2 separate regions of the Homo sapiens genome follow, and region 1 is linked to region 2. The links come from fine-mapping of genetic effects on gene expression. A gene starts in region 2. The other region holds a variant in brackets. All regions are shown on one strand. Distances are from middle to middle. Region 1 overlaps POLN (DNA polymerase nu). Region 2 holds the start of NELFA (negative elongation factor complex member A).

Evidence for each region. PIP is the estimated chance that this variant, and not a neighbour inherited with it, causes the effect.
Region 1: its variant is the best candidate, but not a certain one, in a credible set for the expression of NELFA in whole blood (INTERVAL, PIP 0.68).

What each region holds. Positions count from the first base shown.
Region 1 is chr4:2,087,783-2,092,173 of GRCh38, reverse strand. All of the region lies in intron 20 of POLN (DNA polymerase nu), which reads left to right. It also overlaps the pseudogene LOC100419959. Among named protein-coding and RNA genes, the nearest start is that of NAT8L, 31 kb to the right of the region's middle. The variant T/C (reference allele first, on the strand shown) is at 2,205.
Region 2 is chr4:2,006,373-2,010,763 of GRCh38, reverse strand. It overlaps NELFA (negative elongation factor complex member A), which reads left to right and starts at 1,790. Exons shown (of 11, transcript NM_005663.5): 1 at 1,790-2,014. The coding sequence starts at 1,805. LOC124900839 reads left to right here. Exons shown (of 4, transcript XM_047416543.1): 4 at 591-1,758. The coding sequence starts at 1,003. The coding sequence ends at 1,758. RefSeq lists a silencer at 1,040-1,419 and enhancers at 1,480-1,999, 1,607-2,107.

The DNA.
Region 1 (4,391 bases), 81 kb before region 2:
GTCAGAGGAGACACGGGAGGAGGCCTGGGCGCACAGCACTGTGCCATCAGTGCATCTGCAGGAGTCCCTGGTGCCAAGGGAGCCAGGGGAGGGACCCAGCCCAGGGAGAGTTGGGAGAGTCCAGGAGCTGGCCCAGAGCAGCAACACCCGAGCTGAGTTTTGAAAGCAGCGTAGGATTCAATGTCAGGTCTGTTCCAGCTAGACCAGCCCATGTTCCCACAGGCCCACTATGTGCAGGCACTTGCTCAGCCCTAGAGACATAAACAGGAGTGAAAGCCTGTTAGCAATATGTGTGGGGCAGAAGAGCACTCGGAGAAAAGGGAGTGAAGGGAGTGAAGACTGTCCCTGCTAAACGTCAAATTGTAGCGCGCGCACACACACACACACACACACACACACACACACACACACAGATTCACGTGTACCCACCGGATAGGGTTAGCCGTCTGTGGGAAGAGTCAAATTGTGTGTTCGTGTAGGATTTCAGAGGTATGGAGTACTTAGTGTCCCCAGCATGCAGATCTCTCAGGGCCTGTGTGTGAAACAGGATCAACGGAATCACAGTGTGGGGACAAGTTCTATGAAAAGAAGGAGCAGTCCAGCGGAAGCATGGGACAGAGAAGTCCCCACAGAGCCAAAAGCCATCCTGCTTGGGGAAGGGACAGTGGCCTTTGAGTGTGACAGTCCCACTGCTAAGGGTGTCCAAGGAGTGAGGAGCAAAGATCCAGGGCCTGGAAGGCCTCCCAGACCCTCAGGCTCCATCTCAGTCTCTCGTCCCTGCTGCTTGTGGAGCCACCACACCGTCCGCTCTCTTGTGGATGGGCTTTCTTTATGCCTGGGGACCGGGGCCACCTGCTGCCCTTCAGAGATCCCGACAGCTCCATAGAAGAAAGGAAAGGGATTCTCCCTTGGCCATAAGTATTTAGAAAGCAAGGCATGACTTCTGGTTATGGCCAAGTCGCTCCCATTGGAGCAGCCCTCACACAGGGATCAACTATAAACTGTGGAAAATGTATAAAAAGACAACTACCCAGAGGCACTGGGAAGTGACCAGAGCAACAGAAATTGGAGGTCAGCTGACACCTGGAAGAAAGGAATGGCACTGGTGAATTTCTCATTCTATAGACCCTCACCTGAAGGCAAACCTCAGTTGATGCTGTGGGGACAGAAACTCTGCTAGAACATACAATCCTACTAGCTTGAAGAACTGGAGGACAGAGTTCTGGACAACCAGAGGATCTGGAAAGTGAAATGAGAAATTCTAGAAAGAAGAGAGCCAGGAAATGAGGCCAAATTCTAGGTTTGAACTCTGCTCAGATCCTTGGCTGACCCCTAACTATGCATGAATGGGACAGACTTCAAACAACCCAGAAGCCAAGGCAAAAAGGACTGACCTGAGATTTCAGTGTTTTCCCACTACAGGGAGACAGAGTTTGATTTTAGCCAAACTAAGTGCCCCTTTAAAAATAGTACTCCTGAGCTGGCACCTTATCAGTATCTAAGCGGAGTGTTTTGGAAGGAGTTAAGGGGCTGTAGCAAACGCCCTCTCCACCGTCATGGCCCAGCATCGGAATGTTCGAGGCTGTGACTGCGATGAAGATCTTGAAGATGATGATCACCATGGCCAGTCTGTAGAGGATGATTCTTGTATTTTGCTATCAACAGCTGCTCAGTTTATTTATTCACAGCGTGACAAACCTTCCGTTGAGCCTATAGAAGAATACGATCATGAAGATCTGAAAGAATCTTTCAATTATGTTTCGAACCATCAGCTCAGTGGATTTAATCAAGCTCGTTTTTATTCATGCCTTGATCACATGAGAGAAAGTACTTGGAGATGCTGTGCCAGATGAAATATTGATTGAATCAGTTCTGAAGAACAAGTTTGATGTGCAGAAGCCTTTGTCAGAGGTTCTGGAACAAGATAGCATGTAGAATTTGAAGGACAAGAATGAGGGAAGAGTATCTACAGGAAAGATAGCAAAAGGTAAGGAGTCTTATTTTCTTCTTCTGAAGTTTCAGCTGATAATGTTCAAAGTTCTTATCCTCAGTTAGCAAATCATTTGGATTATAGTAGCAAACCCTTTGATTTTTCTAGCTCAGTAGGAAAATATGGATTATCTCATAATTCTTCAGTTCCAAGTCACTGTTTACTCCATAGGAAAAAGAAACTTGACAGACTTAAAAGTGAAAAGAAACCAGAA[T/C]CATGTAGGTTAACAAAAGAACTTTCACTAGCTAACTTAATTCCTGATATGTCAAGAGATTCCTGTGAAAGTCAGCCATCAGTCAGATTGTCATCTACAGACAGTCTGGAAAGTCTGCTTTCAAAGAACCTAGATGCTGATTTGTTGAGACTTCATCCATCTGAATGTGCTTCCAAAGATGATTCTGCATTCAAAGAAATACCAGATTTAAAGTCCATAATGATAAAGAGCACAACACTGAATAATTCTTCATATATTCAAAGTAATTCACTATCTGATTTTTAAAACATTCCAGTACAGGACAGTTTAGGAAGTTCAGATAATCCTTTGTGCTTAACTAGCTTGTTGGAAAATATGACTGTTGATAATTTAAATGCTAGTAAAGAAACTGAAGTTGGAAGTGTTTCTTTAGTTGAACAAAGTGCCAAGAATTACATTTTTAAAAATGATAATTTGCAGTTTTCCCAGTGTGAAAGTCCATCCCTAACTGAACTGTTTCGGGAACACAAAGAAAACAATATAAGCCAGTGCTTTACTTTGTCTGACCTTTGTAACCAGTCATCTGTCAGTTTCACAGATCTAAGTTTGGGATCCTTTCCCCTGTCACAATTAGCAAATCACTGTCAGTCTTCACCAGGAATATCAGAATTAACAGGATCTATGTTGTCATTGGCATTTCCTAAAGCTTCTCCCACAAGAGACCTTGAGAATTTGTCACTTTCTGAATTGATTGCAGAAACAATTGATGTATACAACTCTCAGATTAAGAAAGAGTCCTTTGAGGTCAGTTTATCTGAAGTGAGGTCTCCTGGAATAGATTCAAATATTGATCTTAGGGTCCTTATAAAAAAAACCCAGATTTTCTTCCAAAGCCTATAGTAGACCAATCCATTGCTCCTTCATCACGAACTAAAGTTCTAAGTTCAAAGCTAGGGAAGAAATCCAATTTTGCTAAGGATAATGAGAAAAACAATAAAGGCTGTCTGACTAGGAAACCACCTTTTTCTCTGTCTCGGACCAAGGCCGTTGCTGCTAGACCTTCAGCTTTTGCCTCAACACTGTGTCTTCGTTACCCACTAAAAAGCTGCAAGCGACGCACCCTTGACCTCTGTAAGACTTTTCTTTATAGTAGACAAGTTCAAGATGTAAAGGACAAAGAAATAAGTCCTCTTGTAGCGATAATACCATTTGACTTCAAATCAGCATCACCTGATGACATTGTAAAAGCTAATAAAAAAAAAGCATTTACTAGAGAATAGTAACAAAAGAAAACTTGATGGCTGTTGTACAGCTTTTTATTTTTAATTAAAGTCTTAGAGGATCACTTTATATTATGGGATTCAAATTGTGATTTTCATGAAAATTGTTGTAGATCAGTTGATTAGCTAATGCGTATTTTTGCACTGAATTTTTTTTAAACTATGTCTTCTTTCAGTGATAACAGGCTTTATTTAAGTTGGTAACCTATACTGAGTATATGTTTACAAAGTGGATATGGAAACTGGATGTTGTGAAATCAGACCTCAGATATTTTTGTTTGAAGCATTCAACTTTCTATGTTTTTTATGATGAAATATTTTTTTCTATGAGATATTTTTGTGCTTTGTTCATAAACGAAAATGCCAGCACTTGGAATTATTATAGTTTAGTGTGAAGATTATTCTTATGTGGCACAGCATAGTTGAGACATTATGTTTTAAAATACGATATAATTCCTAGTTTCATTATTTTTCTGTAGATAAATACTAAAATTTTTCTATTAGAAAATCTTAAAATTCCTGACCTTTGAGAGTACTGTGGAGATTGTTGAAATACATTTTTAATGATAATAAAATGAAAATCTTTTAAGGGACCATGTAAATATAGAAGTTGGATTTATATGTGAATTATTTTTATACATTTTTAAAAACCATTTGTCCTAAATAAACACTTCAAAATAAATATATAAAAAGTGTAAACAAAAAATTAGTACTCCTTAACCAGGCACAGTGGGCATACATCTGTAGCTACTCAGAAGGCTGAGGCAGGAGGATTGCTTGAGCCCAGGAATTGAAAGCTGCAGTGAGCTATGATCATACCATTGCCCTCCAGCCTGGGTAACACAGCAAGACACTGTCTCAAAAGGAAAAAAAAAATAGCACCCCTTAGAAGAATATAATAGGATCTAAAACTCTACGTATATCATGC
Region 2 (4,391 bases):
TTTCACTCTTCTCATACTAAATTTGATATGTCGTCCACTGTTAAACTATTTCTTACCCTCAGATTATAATTATTAAACTTTTTTTTTTTTTTTTGAGAGGGAGTTTTGCTCTTGTGGCCCAGGCTGGAGTGCAATGGCAAAATCTCGGCTCACCGCAGACTCCGCCTCCCGGGTTCAAGCCATTCTCCTGCCTCAGCCTCCCGAGTAGCTGGGCTTACAGGCAAGCCATGCGCCACCAAGCCCGGCTAGTTTTGTATTTTTAGTAGAGACGAGGTTTCTCCATGCTGGCCAGGCTGGTCTCGAACTCCCGACCTCAGGTGATCCGCCCGCCTTGGCCTCCCAAAGTGCTGGGATTACAGGCGTGAGCCACCGTGACCGGCCTAATCATTAAACTTCTTTCAGCACTAGCCCCACTGATGTCACAACTTCACCCATTAGTCAATAACTTGTCTTTGCTGAATTCGACACTTTTGAATCATTTAAAAAATATTCTCTTAAATTTTATGTGCTATTTGCAATGTAACGGTTGTCGACATGACAGTTTTAAGTTTAATCTTTATCATCAACATTTTCTCTATCACTTTCTTCAGTTTAAGCAATCAACAAAACCACCGCTCCAGCACTGATTTGTAGCATTTGCGGGTTTCCCCCGTGTGACTTCCGCAGGACTGCCAAGTTCAAGCCGCCAGGGCCAGGGCACTGCTAGCAGCTGGGCTGAGCCCTGTTCTCCCGGCGTTCCCACCGCCCAGTGGCAATAGCTGTGAACGGCGGCAGGAGCATGGCAGTGGAACAATAAGGAAAAGATCTTTTAAAAAAAAGATATAATACAGAAGCCAAGCAAGGCGGCCCCGACCTGTAACCCCAGCACTCTGGGAGGCAGAGGCGGGCGGGCGGATCGCTTGAGCCCAGGAGTTTGAGACCAGCCTGGCCAACATAGGAAGGCCTCGTCAAAAAGACAAAAGGGTAAAACGAATTTAATAAAATGAAGTTTAACTTTTACTCATGTTTGTATCTAATGACAAGCTTTTAAAACTGAAAAGTTCACTACTGGCTCCTGCCTGGCGGCTCCAGCCCGACTGGGGGCCGGGGCCTCCCTGCACTGTGGGGTCACGAGTGCCCCTGGACAGCTCCCGAGCGCCCTCCGACCCGCATGCTCAGCGCAGCCCCGTCGGCGGCGCGCCACGGGCAGAGCGGGCTCAGCGGGGGACGGAAGCTCAGCGCTGCGACCGGGATCCCGCAGGCTCGCTCCGCAGGGCCGCGGCTCCTCTCCGTGCAGGTGCTGGGCCCGCGGGGGCGGGGCGTCCACACGGTCCGCGCCGAGACCCAAGCGGGGAAAAAGCGAAGAGCGGACAGCGGGGCAGGTGCCACAGGGAGCCTCCGCCCCACCGCGCGAGCAGCAAGTCTGCGGCGCTTGACACCTGCACTGCGAATGCCAGGCCGCAGCCCGGGCTCCCAAGACGCGAATACGCGCGCCTGCTCGTGACGTCATTTTTTGCGGTCTTCCCGAGAGCCAGCAGAGGGCGCCGCCATGATGTTTTACGGAAGCCGATAGTCCTTGCTCAGCGGCACCCCGTCCTTCCGGCTCTCGGCTTTGCCACAAAGCTTCCCGAAGACGCGGCCGCTACCCGGAGACGCGGTCGCCACCCAGAAGCGCTCTCCCGGGAAGCCCCGCTCGTGGGACCGCGCCACCTGCGCCGCCTCTGCGGCCCGCAGCCCGACGGGCGCCGCCATGTTGGGGTCCTAGCGAGGGACGCGTAGGTGTCTTCATAAGATGCCGGGGCAGCGGCGCGCGCTTTCCCCCAAGATGGCGTCCATGCGGGAGAGCGACACGGGCCTGTGGCTGCACAACAAGCTGGGGGCCACGGACGAGCTGTGGGCGCCGCCCAGCATCGCGTCCCTGCTCACGGCCGCGGTCATCGACAACATCCGTCTCTGCTTCCATGGCCTCTCGTCGGCAGTGAAGCTCAAGTTGCTACTCGGGACGCTGCACCTCCCGCGCCGCACGGTGGACGAGGTAAGGCAGGCGTGGCGCCCCGCGGCCCCCAGATTCCCAACCTTCCCACCTCCGACCCGCACACCCAACTCCGGACCCTCCTCGCTCCCTCCCCCAACCTTCCCATCCCCCTTCAGACTGTTAACCCCCCCGGCCCGCCCTCACGCCCCCTCCTCGCTCCTCCGAATACCTCCCTCCAGTCCTCACCTCCCCCTGGGTCCTCATCCCCCGCCTCGATCCTCATCTCCCACCTCGGTTCTCATCCCCACCGTGGGTCTTCAGGACCCCCCGCCCCTCCTCGCCCCCTGGGAATCCCCCACTAGGGTCCTCACCTCCCTACTTTTCGTCCTCACCCCTACCCAAGTTTTCACCTCCCCTGGGATCCTCAATCTCCTCCCCGCCGGGCCCCGGGTTCTCGCTACGACCCCCAGGTCCTCACTCCCCTCCCTGGGCCCCCGGGTACTCATCCCCACCCGCCCCCGCCTCCCCCGCCTTCGGTCCTCACCACCCTAATCCCCCACCGTGCCGAAGCGACCGACTCTTGGAGCGGGGGTGCGCCGGCCCCAGCGGGGTCTCCCATCGGGGTTTCCCGTCGGGGACGCAGCCCTGGTGACCTGGGCGAGGGCGGGGATCCCGAGAGAAACCCCCGCGTGAGGAAGGGGCGGCCTGGGCTCGGTAGCTCCAGTGTCCGCTGACTGGATTTTCTTGTTCTCACCTCGCAAAGACCCCGGCCGTCCGGAGCGCTCTGTGTCCGTTTTACTCTTTTCTACACGCCGTTTTGCGTCATTCCAATAAGTGGGTGTGTGAGGTTTGTTTTCTTTTTTCCTAAACTTTATATTGTATCGCTTTCCGTGCGAAATAAACCGAGTAGTTTTGCAGACTATTGAAGCCCCATGGTTGTTTAAACGTTCCTGGCTACTGATGTATTATTAGCTATTATAGGTTGTAATTGCTTTTGATTGAGATATGACATGTATGGAAAAGTGCATTTTTGTTCAGTTTAACGAATAATAATAGCATCGCGAGCCACTCCTGTGATCCTTACACAGGTGGAGAAGTAGAACCATGCCTGTTCCTTGGAAGCCTCCCACTGGTAATCACGGCCTTCTTCCTTTCCCCTTCCTCATTTTGGAAAGGTAATCATTTCTGTGCCATCTCCCCGGTGTGAGCAATTATTTATGCACCCCTAAATGGCACAGCTTGGTTGCCGGATTTGGAGTTAGTGTGATGGTATCATAGTGTATTTTGTGTGTGGCGTGCATGTGTCTTTTTGGTCGACGCCGTGACAGTTTCATCCACGTTGCAGCTGACTGCAGTTTAATTTTCACTGCTGCGTGGTATTCCTGTCTGTGAGCACGAGGCACTTTATCCATTCTGCCACAGTGACACGCTTAGCTTTTGTGCTCTTGTAAATCATCCCGTTACTACATTACGGTCATATGTTCAGGTGTTTGGAATCTTGGATTTCTCTAGGGTATAACATCTAGGAGTGGAATTGTGAGGATCATAGGATCATGCCAAATTATTTTTCAGAGTGTTTTGTTTTTGTGTTTGTGTTTTGTTTGAGACAGGGTCTGGCGCTGTCAACCAGGCTGGAGTGCAGTGGCACCATCGTGACTCACTGCAGCCTTGACCTCCTCACCTCAGATCTTCCCATCTCAGCCTCCTGAGTAGCTGGGACTACAGGGTTTCACCATGCTGCCCAGGCTGGTCTTGAACTCCTGACCTCAAGCAATCTGCTTGCCTCAGCCTCCTGAAGGGCTGGGATTACAGGTGTGAGCCATGGCACTCGGCCTGCTGTTTGGTTTTCTGCTTTGAGAATTGTATATTCAAATCTGCTTTTAAATTCTCTTTTTTCCCATTGTTTTGTAAGAGTGTCTTTTTTATTATTTATTATAAATGCTAGATATCAGTCCTTTTTCAGTTACAAATATCTCCCAGTTGTCCTTTGACTTTGACTTAGCTTCCTGGAATCCTTTTTTTTTTTTTTTTTTTTTTTTTTGAGACAGCGTCTCACTCTGTCACCCAGGCTAGAGTCTAGTGGTATAATCATAGCTCACTTTAACCTTGAACTCCTGGGCTTAAGCAGTCCTCCCTCCTAAACCTCTGTAGTAGCTGGGACTGATGCGCTGCCACCACGCCTGGCTAATTTTTGTGCATGTGTATGGAGATGGGGGTCTTACTGTATTGCCCAGGCTGGTCTTGAACTCCTAGCCTCAAGTGATCCTCCTGCCTTGGCCTCCCATAGTGTTGGGATTACAGGTGTGATCTGTGCGCCCAGCCCTTTTCCTGGAATCATGGATGAATAGAAGCTCCTAGTTTTAACATAGATGGTGTATTCATCCGCCCACTATCATTGGTGCCTATTGTGTCTCCCCGAGGGACATGCCCGGAACAC